Linked DNA regions of Homo sapiens. The protein of the gene in region 1 purifies or fractionates together with the protein of each later gene. This does not show direct contact. Each region holds a gene or a part of one and is shown on either strand. Other genes may lie near its edges.

Region 1 (7,364 bases):
CCATAGGAATCTTGAATCAGTGCAACTAGGATGATGCCCACAAATCTGCATTTTCATAAACACCCAGTGAATCTCATACAAGTATTCCTCAAAAGAAATGTTGAAATACATCTAAACAGAGTTTATAACACTGACCCAAGGATACGAAAAATATGTTCTTTAAAACCTAGGAAGCTTTAATACATTCGGCTGTATTAAAATTAAAACTTTGGGCCAGAGGCGGTGGCTCATGCCTGTAATCTTAGCGCTTTGGGAGGCCAAGGTGGGTGGATCACCTGAGGTCAGGAGTTTGAGACCAGCCTGACCAACATGGTGAAACCCTATCTCTACTAAAAATGCAAAAATTGGCTGGCCATGGTGGCAGGTGCCTGTAATCCTAGCTACTTGGGAGACTGAGCCGGAGAATCACTTGAACCTGGGACGCAGAGGTTGCAGTGAGCTGAGATTGTGCCACTGCACTCCAGCCTGGGTGACAGACTCTGTCTCAAAAAAAAAAAAAAATTAAACATTTATATGTAAGAGCACAAATATACTCAAAGACAAAAAACTGAGGAGAATATTTATAACACATGATAGATAGCAATACTAATTTCTTTGTTTTATTAAAAAAATTACAAATAAAAAGAACAACTAATGGAAAAATTATATACAGAAAAATGCAAAGAATATGAAGAGAGCTCACAAATTAGAATATTCAAATGTTGGATATACACTGTATGATAAGTTGTGAGGAAACAAGAACTTTTATCCATATTGGTATATGTCTATATTGGTAAACTCTTGAAAGATAATTCTGTAATATCTATCACAGTGTTGTATGTTAAATGCCTATTAACAATTCTCCTAAGAATTTACCCTATGAATATACTCAGAGCATGTGAAACAGTCTAAAAATACACTATATGGTCCATCCGTACAGCGGAATATCCCACTATAAAGAAGAAAATAGGTCTGAGTACATCTCCCAGATACATGAGGAAAGAAAGGAACACTAGGCACAGTGGTATATATAGATTGTTCACACTTGTTTAAATTTTACAGGTATACAAAAAAATTGTTCTGGAATGCAGTAAACTAATTCTCACCTTTGAGAAGAGGGTCTATTTTGTCAAAAGTATTAGAATTGTTTTCATTTATCAAATTTTGTACTGTTTGAATTTTTTACCGTGTAAATTGCTTTTAATTTTAAATATTTTAAATTGTTTAATGTTATATTATTTGGACAGATGCTTCTTAGGCTAAAAAATCGTTATTGCTATTTTATCCTGTACAAACATTAAAGTTTGGTGTGTGTGTGCATGGGGTTTTTTCCTGTGAATTTTAATGTTGAGCTATTCATTTTGTCAGGTGATTGCCCATTGATTGTTCAGTTTGCTGCTAACGATGCAAGACTTTTATCTGATGCTGCTCGTATAGTCTGTCCTTATGCGAATGGAATAGACATTAACTGTGGTTGCCCTCAGAGGTAAAGCTCAAAGAAGTTGGAAGAATTTTCCAAAAGAGTAGAAAAAAAACTGTGTGAACATGGTAAAATATCTTTCTAGTTTTCCAAAAATTAAAAAGAAAATAGAGTTACAGTCCCAGGGCTCAAAACAAGAAGGAAGAAAATATAGGGAAATGTAATTTAGAAACATAAATTCAAAGGTCTTTTCTGATGACTGAAATGATGTATAGACCTTTGACAGGTGTTTTGTCTCCCCTCACCAATAGAATTTTTATGTGGCTGTGCCTTGAATCTCATCCCTAAGTAGTTATATGAGAATCTAATGTTTACGGCAATCCCTAAAATGTATTTTTACTGTCATGTCAGATATACTTGCTCTGAAAACAGATTGTTTGACTTAGGAAATCACCACATATTTCCTCCTAATTAATTCCCCTTATAAAAATACCTTATTATAATCACTTTTTCTTTCTATACCACAGTTACTTGTTTGGGTTTAAATAACTGGGTGTTGATAGGGTGTACTTAATTTGACAATAATATTTCTTTTTTTTTTTTTTTTTTTGAGACAAGAGTTTCCCGGGTTGGAGTGCAGTGGTGTGGTCTCGGCTCACCACAACTACCGCCTCCCAGGTTCAAGCGATTCTCCTGCCTCAGCCTCCTGAGTAGCTGGGATTACAGCCATGCACCACCACGCCAGGCTAATTTTGTATTTTTAGTAGAGACGGGGTTTCTCTATGTTGGTCAGGCTGGTTGCAAACTCCCAACCTCAGGTGATCCGCCCGCCTTGGCCTCCCAAAGTGCTGGGATTACAGGCCTGAGCCACCGCGCCCAGCCTGACAATAATAGTTCTACTTTACTGGCACTGTAGTAGATTATCAGTAATTCAAAATGTGTCCAAAGAATAAAAGCAAAGTTGTTAAGTATAGCGTAATCGAAATCAGATTAGACATATTTGTATACTCATTAGGAGGGTTAAATTAGCTGTTTAGTGGTATTGGAATGCTGTAAGCCAAAAATATCTTTCTACTATTGAGACTAATAAAACCTCTTGTTATGCACAATAAACATCAAATTTGGAATTTTTAAAATCTGAAGTCATTGCAATTACTTCAAATATTTAAACCTGTTTTGGTTGAATGACTTTTAACTTAATATTCTCACTTGCCAATGAAAACCATTTCTCCTGAGTACTTTTTGATCTGGGAACATGTTTTCCTAATCTCATATTGATCCACTTAGAAATGTTGAATCTATGAATTTTTTATATCTGCTTCTCTTCCAGATCACTAGAGAAATGGATGCACTTACATTTCAGTGCTTTCAGAATTTTGTCTTCTCTTCCAGTTATTTATAATTCACTTGTTCATGTGTTTGCTTTACAAAGGTGGGCAATGGCAGAAGGTTATGGGGCTTGCTTAATAAACAAGCCAGAGCTTGTTCAAGACATGGTGAAACAAGTAAGAAATCAAGTGGAAACCCCTGGATTTTCAGTTTCTATTAAAATAAGGTAAAGACAATATTTCAATCTATTGATAGGATAATCCATTACTTAGGAAATGAAAGATTATTGCTTTTGTCTGATGCTGTTGGGAGTATCTATCCTAAATAAATTGGTAGCTGGTGTATGGAAATGTTGAAAATAAGACATTTAGTAAAAGAATATATACCATAATTTTCATTTATAGTCCTGAAAAACTTCCTCTTTGTACTTTTAACAAAAGTTAAAGCCTCCCTTTAAGTTTCACCAAACTTTCAACTTTAGCTATGTAGTATTTAATGTTAAGAAACATTACTGGTGCCAAGTGTAGAAAATAGGAAAAATATTTGCACTAAAATTTCACAATGAAAAGAAAATAAACCAGGAATCAGTTTTTCCGTGACAGGTTGAAAACATATTTCTTTTTTTGAGACAGAGTCTCACTCTGTTGCCCAGGCTGGAGTGCAGTGGCACAATCTTGGCTCACTGCAACCCCTGCCTCCCAGGTTCAAGCAATTCTCATGCCTCAGCCTCTCAAGTAGTTGGGATTACAGGTGTGTGTCACCACACCTCGCTAATTTTTGTATTTTTTAGTAGAAACGAGGTTTCGCCACGTTGGCCAGGCCAGTCCTGAGCTCCTGGCCTCAAGTGATCCACCTGCCTCAGCCTCTCAATGTGCTGGGATTACAGGAGTGAGCCACGGTGCCCAGCCTGAAAACATATTTCAAGATAAAGTATTATATTCTCCCACTGGGGGATGGGGGCATGCACAGCAAATATTAAGGTTTAAATTCATCTGTGACAGTACTTTCATGGGTCTTTCATTTATCAAAGCCAAAACATAGAAGCACTAGGTCTAAGATAAAACTTGTTTTTTGTCCTTTGTTGTCAATAGTGAAATAGCTAAATTTGAGGTCTTGTGTAGGAACTGCTCCCTGAAGAAAACCTTGCTGATAATGACATAGAGTAATAATATGATATAGCAAAGCTAACTAATTTGGTAGATGAAATACCATTTTAGTCAGTTAATGTTAGCATTAAGATTTGTGTGCTGTGAACAGATAAATGTAATTTTGAAATTGTAGGATCCATGATGACCTTAAAAGAACTGTAGATCTTTGTCAAAAGGCTGAAGCAACAGGAGTTTCATGGATTACAGTCCATGGAAGAACTGCTGAAGAAAGACATCAGCCAGTGCACTATGATTCCATTAAAATAATTAAGGAAAATATGTCTATACCTGTAATTGCTAATGGAGACATCAGAAGCTTAAAGGAAGCAGAAAATGTGTGGCGGATTACTGGGACAGATGGTAAGAAATAAGTACTTGGGTTCTTTTAATTGGGGGGGGAAGAAATGAGAGTGGGGAAGTAATGTTAATTTGATTTTCATTTGTTTTGTTTAACATTAAGCCATATTTTCCCATTGTACTGTTTTAAGCTAAGCGATTTATTAAAATGATGTTAAGTTTTCTACCTAGAAAAACATGGATTATCTTAACTGGGATAAATTAATTCAGTTACTTTTCTGACACCATCATATCTAGTGACCAGTGAAGAATTTTCCAGATAGCCTACTAGTAAAATAAAGCACCTAGAAATAAGAGTAAGTGAACTCGAGAATGATAAGAGCTAAAGGAATCCCAGAACTGCTATGCAGTTTCATTATTCCCTTAAATTATTGGCATGCCAAGCCCTATAATTGCTAGATGGGAGAATATAGATAAACTGAACTTTAAGCAGCCCAATTTATGACAATCCAGATTTACCCTAAAGAAAAACTAAAGACTAATGGTTTAATGTAGAAATCTTTAAAAAATAAAGATTTCTGTACGTACATTTAAACTTTCCTGGTTTACAAAAGGTACCAAAATTAATTCTTTTGTAATCGGATTAAACATATTAATGCAATAAAGACATTACAAAACCTTGTGATAATACTTTTTAAAAATATACTGTTTGCTTCATTGAGCTTGAACTAATAACCAGGGGTTCTTAATGTATGGACAAATATGGTGTGCTTTAATTTGTAGGTGTGATGGTTGCAAGAGGACTCTTAGCAAACCCGGCCATGTTTGCTGGATATGAGGAAACCCCACTGAAATGCATCTGGGACTGGGTTGACATTGCTCTTGAACTCGGGACTCCTTACATGTGTTTCCATCAACATTTAATGTACATGATGGAAAAGATAACTTCAAGGCAGGAAAAAAGGGTATTTAATGCTCTGTCAAGCACATCAGCAATCATAGATTACCTTACAGACCATTATGGCATTTGACTAGACTTCCCAAATAATTTTAATATATACTTTTAGACCCACAGTGAAACCACAGAAGGTCATATTTTGTACCTTAAACCAGTAGCTCTCAAATTTTAGTATAAAAACAATTCCTGGGAGCGTTTTTTAAAAATCAGTTGTAGACACCACCCTCAGAGATTCTGATTAGGTAGATCTGGAGTAGACCCAGAAATACACAGTTTAAAGAAAACTCCCAGTGGTTCAAACATCCTGATCATCCTAGGCAAACATTGACAAATACTGCTCTGAATCCTGTTCTATAGATATTGGGGGGATGGGTAGAGTGGGAATTTTTTCCTAATCATGTTTTTAACATTTTAAAATAAAATTTAATACTAAGAAATTATGGCTTATAGTATCTATAAATTAACAAGAAGTATGCAGGTGCAAAAAAGTGGTGGAACAAATACCAACATCCATCCAAAATGAAAAAGAACAGGAAATTCTGAATAGAATTGCACTCAGAACTTATATTAAAAATTCCATTTGGTTAATGACATTAAATTTGGTACATTTCAAAACTTCTAGGTCCTCCAAAGATTGAAAGCTTAATAATCTCCTACCTAAAAAGATAAAATTAATTGCAATCTACCATATCTTAAGTATAGGAAATTTGGTGTCCAACCTGGAGATGATTATATATTTGAAATATTTCCTAGAGAATAGTAACCAGGTTTTGTTTTTAACTTTAAAACCTAATTACTTTTGTGCCTCTCAGCCGTTGATTGTAACTTTAAAGTCCCATGGTTTTGGAGTGTTATTAATAGATTTTGTTATCGGTGGGCATGCACTGCAAGAATTAAGTATCTCAGACTGAAATAAAACCGTTCATAATTAAAGTATTATTTTGTTTTGCCAACATGAAAACTGTTATAAGGAAACAATTATGTAAAACTGTTTAATTCACGTTTGGGAATATTGAATGAATCCATTTTAACATAAGCACTGTGGTGCCATCTTTTTTCTCAGTACATTCTGTTTTCACTTTTCAGTTAATGCATTTTTTTTTTTAAAGATAACTCGCTGTTTCATTTTCTATGAATACTGTACAAAATAGGGAGGTATGGTCAGAACTCTGAATTGAATTACCCTAGTGTTGTGAGCACAGCATCATCACTAGAGTAATGTGCTCGGTGTTTGGAAGGAACCAGCGTGGATGGGCAAGAAGTTCTAACACTTTTGATTAAAAGTAACTTCCTGGCCGGGCGCGGTGGCTCACGCCTGTGATCCCAGCACTTTGGGAGGCCAAGACGGGCAGATCACGAGGTCAGGAGATCAAGACCATCCTGGATAACACGGTGAAACCCCGTCTCTACTAAAAATACAAAAATTAGCTGGGCGTGGTGGCGGGCGCCTATAGTCCCAGCTACTCAGGAGGCTGAGGCAGGAGAATGGTGTGAACCTGGGAGGTGGAGCTTGCAGTGAGCTGAGATTGCGCCACTGCACTCCTGCCTGGGCAACAGAGCAAGACTCTGTCTCAAAAAAAAAAAAAAAAAAGTAACTTCCTGGCTAGGCGCGGTGGCTCACACCTGTAATCCCAACAGTTTGGGAGGCCAAGGCAGGCAGATCACTTGAGTCCAGGAGTTCGAGACCAGCCTGGCCAACATGGTGAAACCCTGTCTCTGCTAAAAATACAACAATTAGCTAGGCATGGTGGCAGGCGCCTGTAATCCCAGCCACTCTGGAGACTGGGGCCAGAGAATCACTTGAACCTGGGAGGCAGAGGCTACAGTGAGCCGAGATCGCACCACCACAATCCAGCCTGGGCGACATTGGGAGACTCCATCTCAAAAAAAAAAAAAAAATCTTCCTTATGGTTAATTTATGTTCAAAGTCTATTTTTCTATTTTTTCTGTTACATGTGATCCAGAATATTAGTGATAAATTAAGAAAAAGCACCAACTTAAATGTGTTTTTGAATGTTTTATATTCTATAATTATCAATTTTCAACATTTATTTACTATTCCCCAAATAATTGTTACCAGGATAGTACTTTTATTAAATTCCTGATACGTTGTCAATATTGAAAAAACTCAACAACTTAAATGTACACGCACAGTTTGAAAAGCTGGAAAATAGTGAAAGAATATCCCCATACCCACCTTTCGTACCAGTCCCCAAACATCACGGTAAAGTTT
Region 2 (7,000 bases), on another chromosome or scaffold:
CAACATGTGAAATAGATGGGGCAGGGGACTTAGGCCTCAGTGACCTTGGACCACAATGATTGCTACTGCTTTCACTTAGAAGCTGAATCTTCCACTGGAAACTGGGATGGATAAGACCTATGATAGTCTTAAAGAGGCTCTATTCCTGTAACATTAAGAAATCATCTGCTGCTTCTGTGATTTTTAAAAAACTAGATCAATCCCTAGTTTTTATAAAATCTTCTTATTAATAATATCAGCCAGGCATGGAGGCCAACTCCTGTAATCCCAGCACTTTGGGAGGCTGAGGTGGGTGGATCACTTGAGCCCAGGAGTTTGAGACCAGCCTGGGCAACAAAGTGACACCCCATTTCTACAAAAATTAAAAATAAAAAAATTAGCCAGCATGGTGGCACATGCCTGTGGTCCCAGCTACATGGGAGGCTGAGACAGAAGGATCCCTTGAACCCAGTAGGTCAAGGCTGCAGTGGGCTGTGTTCACATAACTGCACTCCAGCCTGGGTGATGATAGAGCAAGATCATGACTCAAAAAAAAAAAGAAAAAATTACAAAATCCCCATTGTTTATAGGAAAATTGTAGCCTGATCCTAATAAATAAAAATATGACGTTAAACACAAGAACTTTCCACACTAGAATAGAGATTGTGTTTTTGTAAATGGCTTTTCTGAAAGGTTCTTCTAAATAACAATATTTATAGTATATATGAAAATATTTCATTTTTAAATTTTTAGTTTAAATGTTCCATATAAAATACCTTTTCAAAAGCACTGGGAAATCCTTGTATAAAGCTTGTTTTTTGTCAGCCACAGTAAATGACTTTAGTTGGTTGTTTAAAAATGCTTTTATTCTGTTTCATTTGAAAATGCATTCTTGCCTCTTTTTTGTTTGTTTTAAACTTTGGTACTCAAATACATGTCGCTTGTTCTGTGATTTATGTTGCAATGCTAAGTGAATAACGTACGTCATCTAAGGTTATCTAAGTGGGGTTTAGGCTGGGAGTGGTGGCTCACACATGTAATTCCAGCAGTTTGGGAGGCCAAAGTGGGCAGATCACCTGAGGTCAGGAGTTCGATACCAGTCTGGCCAACACGGTGAAACCTCTACTAAAGATAAAAAATTAGTCGGGTGTAGTGGTACACATCTGTAATCCCAGCTACTCGGTAGGCTGAGGCTCGAGAATTGCTTGAACTGGGAGGCGGAGGTTGCAGTGAACCGAGATTGCGCCACTGCACTCCAGCCTGGGCAACAGAGTGAAACTCCATCTCATCTCAGAAAAATAATAAAATAAATGGGGTTTAGATTGGAATTTTTCGAATCCAAAGTTAACAGTATGATAAAACAAAAGTGCCAGTTGAGTGTCTTCATTTCTTACAGTGCTGGTGTGGGCAGAACAGGCACCTATATTGTAATAGACAGCATGCTGCAACAGATAAAAGACAAAAGCACAGTTAACGTCCTGGGATTCCTGAAGCATATCAGGACACAGCGTAACTACCTCGTCCAGACTGAGGTAAGGAGTAGCTGCCAGCGTCCTCACGACATTCTGGCAAATGCTGTAACTGAAATTTGTTAAATGATAATGAAGAGACAGATTCATTCTTTTAGGGCTTGCAGTAATTTACAGGTTTGTATTAGAAGATATTCTGACAATGATCCTATTCTACGGATCACAGTTTTCCATTTCTGTATGGATCTTAACATTTGGATTCCTAAATAACTACACAAGTACTTACGAAAGAGATACAGTTGTTTCAAGAGCTGTGTTAGATGGTAGGGGGAGTTAAACATGTTGTCTGGCCTGAGAAATACATAGGAGAGGATGGTTCTAAAACCCTTCATTGAACACGATTTTTTGTTTGCTTATTGAGTTGAAGCAATAAGCACAGTATAGAATACCGTGATCCAGGCACAGTATAGAATACAGAGCTAAACTTAACACAGTCTCTACCGTAAAATAAGTTAAGACTGATAAAGTGAGTATTGGAGCAAATCACCTAGCTGTAAGTGCTTGAAGGAAATCACTGGGAGGTCCCTGTTAGCAGCAGAATTAAACTAAGGTACACTTCATGAATGAGTGGCTAACCCTTAACACTCCCTCAGTGACTACCATGTATTGTACCTCTTAGGAGCAGTACATTTTCATCCATGATGCCTTGTTGGAAGCCATTCTTGGAAAGGAGACTGAAGTATCTTCAAATCAGCTGCACAGCTATGTTAACAGCATCCTTATACCAGGAGTAGGAGGAAAGACACGACTGGAAAAGCAATTCAAGGTAGTGCTTTGAAAAAGTTTCTTTGGCATAAAGCAAGAAAATGTTTTAAATGCCTTGAGTTTGGGGGTTATGTCTTCTTTGCATTAATGTATACACCGAAATGGATTACTATTTGTACTCCTTGTACTCCTTAAATGTGATGAAAAAGAAAATACGGTTTTGACCTATGTATGAATTGTTGGTATTCAAGTAGATATACAGTGTTGTATTTTCTTCTGAGCAATTTATGACTTTATCTGAATATAAACATCAGCCCCTGGCCATAATGACATAGTACTTTAAAGTAACTCGTTTAGTCCAAAAAATGTCCTATTTTTTCTGAACTAATCTATCTTACCTTAATTATTAAGAATGATGACTTGTAGACATATTGTCCTAAAAATATGCCTATTTCAAAAACTATTTCAGAAGATAATTTAGGAATTTAAAAAGAATTACTAAACAATACTAGAGAAAAGTTAACTTTTCCTAAATGGTTGTTCTTTTTCTTTGATAGGGACATGAAGAAGCTTAAAAGCGGTTAAGGTTTATATGGAATTGACTGAAGTGAAGGTGAAAAAGAGAGATTATAAGGACTATTAAAATAATTAGGGCTCAGTCATCTGATAATAAATCAAAATTGCTTCTAACTTTCAAACATCGCCTGTCTCTCCAGTTACCAAGTGCTTTCCTATTTATCTTTGTCTTTTAAATTCTATTTTGCACATTGTTCTGTATGTAAATAGTTTCTCCCTTTGTATCAAGATTCAAAGAATGAGATGAATCTACAGTTTTAGTTTTCATGGTAAAACTTTCCATAGACTGAAACTTTCATTTGAATCTCAGCTGAAGAAATGAGACTGCCAAGCAAATTATACCAAGTGATATGAAATGAAAAATAGTTTAATTTCACTGAGTTCAGTCATAAAATTAAAAATTTTTAGCTCCCCATTAACATTCTACTATAAAACCATGAGATAATTAATAATGAGGACACAGTGTATCATTTTAAATGTTTAACATGAGTTCTTACAAAATATTAAGTACCAACATTTCTTAAATTCTGCCTTTTTCGTTTCTTCAATTTTTTTTTATACATACTTTAAAACTTCATTTAAGAAATGCGACCAGGTAGTTGGTTCTTTTACAGGCACTAACCATTTTAGAGCTCAAGATGAAGAAAAAAACAAGAATCAAACTTGAAAATGAAAATTATATCCAGGGACCATGAGTTTTACTAAAGCATCTGGAGAAGAACACTGATCTCATATACTCCATTAGGATGGATGCCAGCCCCCAAAAAATAGGATTGACAAAATGGTTCAACCAAGCTACATAAACAGGAATAATAATCAAACTACTGGGCTGGTTACTTATAAAAGCCTTAGAACAATGTTAGTTCAGTTCAACAGAAATGTACTGAGAACTAGTTAAGTACTCCTTTATCTTCAAGAAACTTGATTAGCTCGTAATCAATAGCATTAAGCAATCTTTTTTAATGTAGACTCACGTAGGTCTTTTATGCCAGTGAGGATCACAGAAAAAAATTCACAGCAGCAGTGACATCACATAACAGAAGAATCCACATAGTTCTAGAAATATCTATTGCACACAGTACCTATTTCTACCTGATAGTAGAAATAAGAAAGATACAATCAAGGTCACTGAGAGAAGTACCACTAGGAAAGCACAAGAGTGTTCTCTGGGGCTGGGCATGGTAGATTACACCTGTAATCCCAGAGCAGCCTGGGAAACACAGGAAGACCCCAATTCTATAAACAATTTTAAAAATTAGCTGGTTGTGCTGATGCACCTGTGGTCCTAACTACTCAGGAGGCTGAGGTGGGAGGATCACAGTTAACTGAGCTACAATCATGCCACTGCACTCCAGCCTGGGCAAGAGAGCAAGACCCTGTGTCTTAAAAGGTTCTTTGTGGCACAGAAATGGTCTTGTTTATCAGTAATCTGATTGGGATTTTTGCCAAAGCATCAAGCAAATGCTATCAATTATATCTTTGAATGAAGACTAAAATGTTTTTTCTTTTTCAGCTGGTCACACAGTGTAATGCAAAATATGTGGAATGTTTCAGTGCTCAGAAAGAGTGTAACAAAGAAAAGAACAGAAACTCTTCAGTTGTGCCATGTAAGACTTTAAAACAGTTTGTTAGTGATCTTTTATACTGGATTGTATGTTAGGTACAGAGGCAGCCACTACTCTGATGCTATTGATAGCACCCTTCAATTGTACTGTACGTGGCCGTATGGTAGAAGGTTTTGAAAATGTCCTTTTAGTAACCTCATTAATGTATGACTTTATACCAGCCTCTTACCTGGTACTACCAAAAGGGAAAATGTTATGCTTATTCAACTAAGGTAGTTTAATGAAACTGGGAGAGGTGGTTGTCAGTGTCAGCAAGTGCTCCATCTATCTGACGTAGAATACAGCTTCATTTCACCTTGGAATGCAAGAATTGGGTTACTTCTACCATATTATAACATAAAAAATAATAATAAAGCTGTTATTGCTGTGGCATTAACATTCCTCTAAAACTTAGAATCCTGGATTAATCTGTACAACTAGAACTACCTTATTCAGTTACTGTGGCTATTGAGATCAAGGCACTGTTGATTGGTGGTGACCTTTGTATAAATAGCTAAGGACATTGCAGAGGATGCTGTCTGTGTGCTGTAGGCATAGACATGGGTGATCATTTGGGAGATTTATCTCTAATGAAAAAGGCCACTCTTTTCTAAGACCATCATGAGCAGAAAGACATGGAGAAAGGGGTTGGTAAAAGGACAAAGTATATGTTGGTATAATTGTAGGAATAACAAACTAGAGTCAAAAGTTATCTAAAATCCTCTGTTGTGTCCATATAAAGTATTCTGTTATTGATCTGCTGTAAAAATCTCTCCCACAGTAAAACTGTATTCCTACAATGCCTGTGTCCTTCTGGGTATGTGCAGCAAAATTTCATTTTACATTCTGCCTCAGCTGATAACACTTTAGCTTGTTTAAAAATATAGATAAGTCTTAGAAAGGGAAGCCAGGAGGATATGTTATTCATCAAGCAAATCTCAGAAAGAGCTGTTGGTTCTGTGTGTATAATAAGGCAAATGTGGTGTTTTTGTTTTTTCCATATGATAGCTGAGCGTGCTCGAGTGGGTCTTGCACCATTGCCTGGAATGAAAGGAACAGATTACATTAATGCTTCTTATATCATGGTGAGAGTCAACAGTTAATTATAAATAAAGTCAACTAAACTGAAAGGTGTTAAAGAGCAGATACCACCTGTGTGACTGATGTCATTTTTGAAATAATTTCTCAATGTGTAATATGAAAAGTATAGAGATTTCTGTATCTTGAAACTTTTAACAAAAGATACCTAATCAGTGCTGGTACAAAAATGCTTAAATTAAGCAGAATGCTTCTTAAGGAATTAATTTTATTGTTAATTTCACACATCTAGTCTTTGAATAAATGTTGAAATTTCCCTTAAGTGAAAACAGCAGGGTTAACTAGAAGTGAACTGCACATGGAGAGAAAATTGTCTGCACAGTGCTAGCAGAAGTACATCTAAAAATTAGCCAAATGTACCGAATGCCTTTCTCAATTATTTTAGTGTAGTCAAAACAGTGCTATCTTATTTCATGAATATATTTTACTACCACAAAGTTAGAATAAAACACTCATATTCACTGATTTTTTTTGTCTTCCCAACTGAAGGGCTATTATAGGAGCAATGAATTTATTATAACTCAGCATCCTCTGCCACATACTACGAAAGATTTCTGGCGAATGATTTGGGATCATAACGCACAGATCATTGTCATGCTGCCAGACAACCAGAGCTTGGTAAGTAAAGCACATCTGCTATATATTAATGAGCCCATGAGGCTACAAGCATAAATTACTTTGATACTTTGCCATAGGGCTATAGTATCCATATATGCTAGGGAGGGAATTTAAAATTTTTAAATTCTCATCTTGAAGTCTGTGGAGATTCCTTTCATAGTCTCACAATACTGTCCCTATCAGTTCCATTACTTGAGTCTCTGATGCTATTGATATCACCCTTCAATTGTACTGTCTGTGGCGGTGTGGTAGAAGGTTTTGAAAATGTTTTTAGTAACCTCATTAATATATGACTACACCAACCTCTTCCCTGCTGTATGTCACTTTTGAAAAGTAAATAATTGTAGCTTACAGGTACTGAGTATGTAACTGTGTTTACATGCATTAACTTGTTTAATTCTCAACAATTTTAAGACATACATACTATTATTATCTCATGTAATAGCTGAGAAAACTGAGAACAAACTTGCTCAAGAGAGCACACACAAGTAACTGGAGCCAGGATTTTAACCTGAGTCATCTGTCTCCAGAGACCATGCTTATATAATCATTTTACTGTATGTCTTACCCCAAAATATTGTATCAAAAGTACTAATAGTGAATTTTTTTTTCCCACTCCATAGGCAAGTCAGGTCTACTGCAGGGATAGGCTATTTTGTTCCCACTTAAAGGTCTTTAGGACTGAGCTGCTACTACTTTTCCCTCCCTTAGTCCTTCTCTATTTCAGTCTCTAAACTATACAGAAGGGTGAGCAAGTTTATAAAACAGACTTAAATGTTTCTGCTTAGATCTTGTGGATACTTAAGTTTCGGAATTAGCTGGGTCTATAAAAGTTACTGTGTGGACATGTGAACCCATGAGGTAAAAACAAAAAACAGTGAGGATCTGCCT

The links. Proteins that work in one complex are often made in the same cells at the same time.
Region 2: the proteins of DUS4L (region 1) and PTPRG purify together in Homo sapiens (affinity purification with mass spectrometry; 2 studies listed by BioGRID and IntAct, with this or other methods). This does not show direct contact.

The regions. Positions count from the first base shown.
Region 1 is NC_000007.14:107,572,357-107,579,720, forward strand, and holds the end of DUS4L (tRNA-dihydrouridine(20a/20b) synthase [NAD(P)+]-like), read left to right. Parts: intron 1-1,347; coding exon 1,348-1,465; exon of another isoform or gene 1,466-1,527; intron 1,528-2,831; coding exon 2,832-2,954; intron 2,955-4,009; coding exon 4,010-4,236; intron 4,237-4,956; coding exon 4,957-5,204; 3' UTR 5,205-6,167; downstream 6,168-7,364. Other genes in the region: DUS4L-BCAP29 protein, read left to right, coding at 1,348-1,465, 2,832-2,954, 4,010-4,236. UniProt on the Homo sapiens protein: Catalyzes the synthesis of dihydrouridine, a modified base found in the D-loop of most tRNAs.
Region 2 is NC_000003.12:62,271,571-62,278,570, forward strand, and holds part of PTPRG (receptor-type tyrosine-protein phosphatase gamma isoform 1 precursor), read left to right. Parts: intron 1-1,375; coding exon 1,376-1,511; intron 1,512-2,127; coding exon 2,128-2,274; intron 2,275-4,302; coding exon 4,303-4,396; intron 4,397-5,401; coding exon 5,402-5,478; intron 5,479-5,980; coding exon 5,981-6,109; intron 6,110-7,000.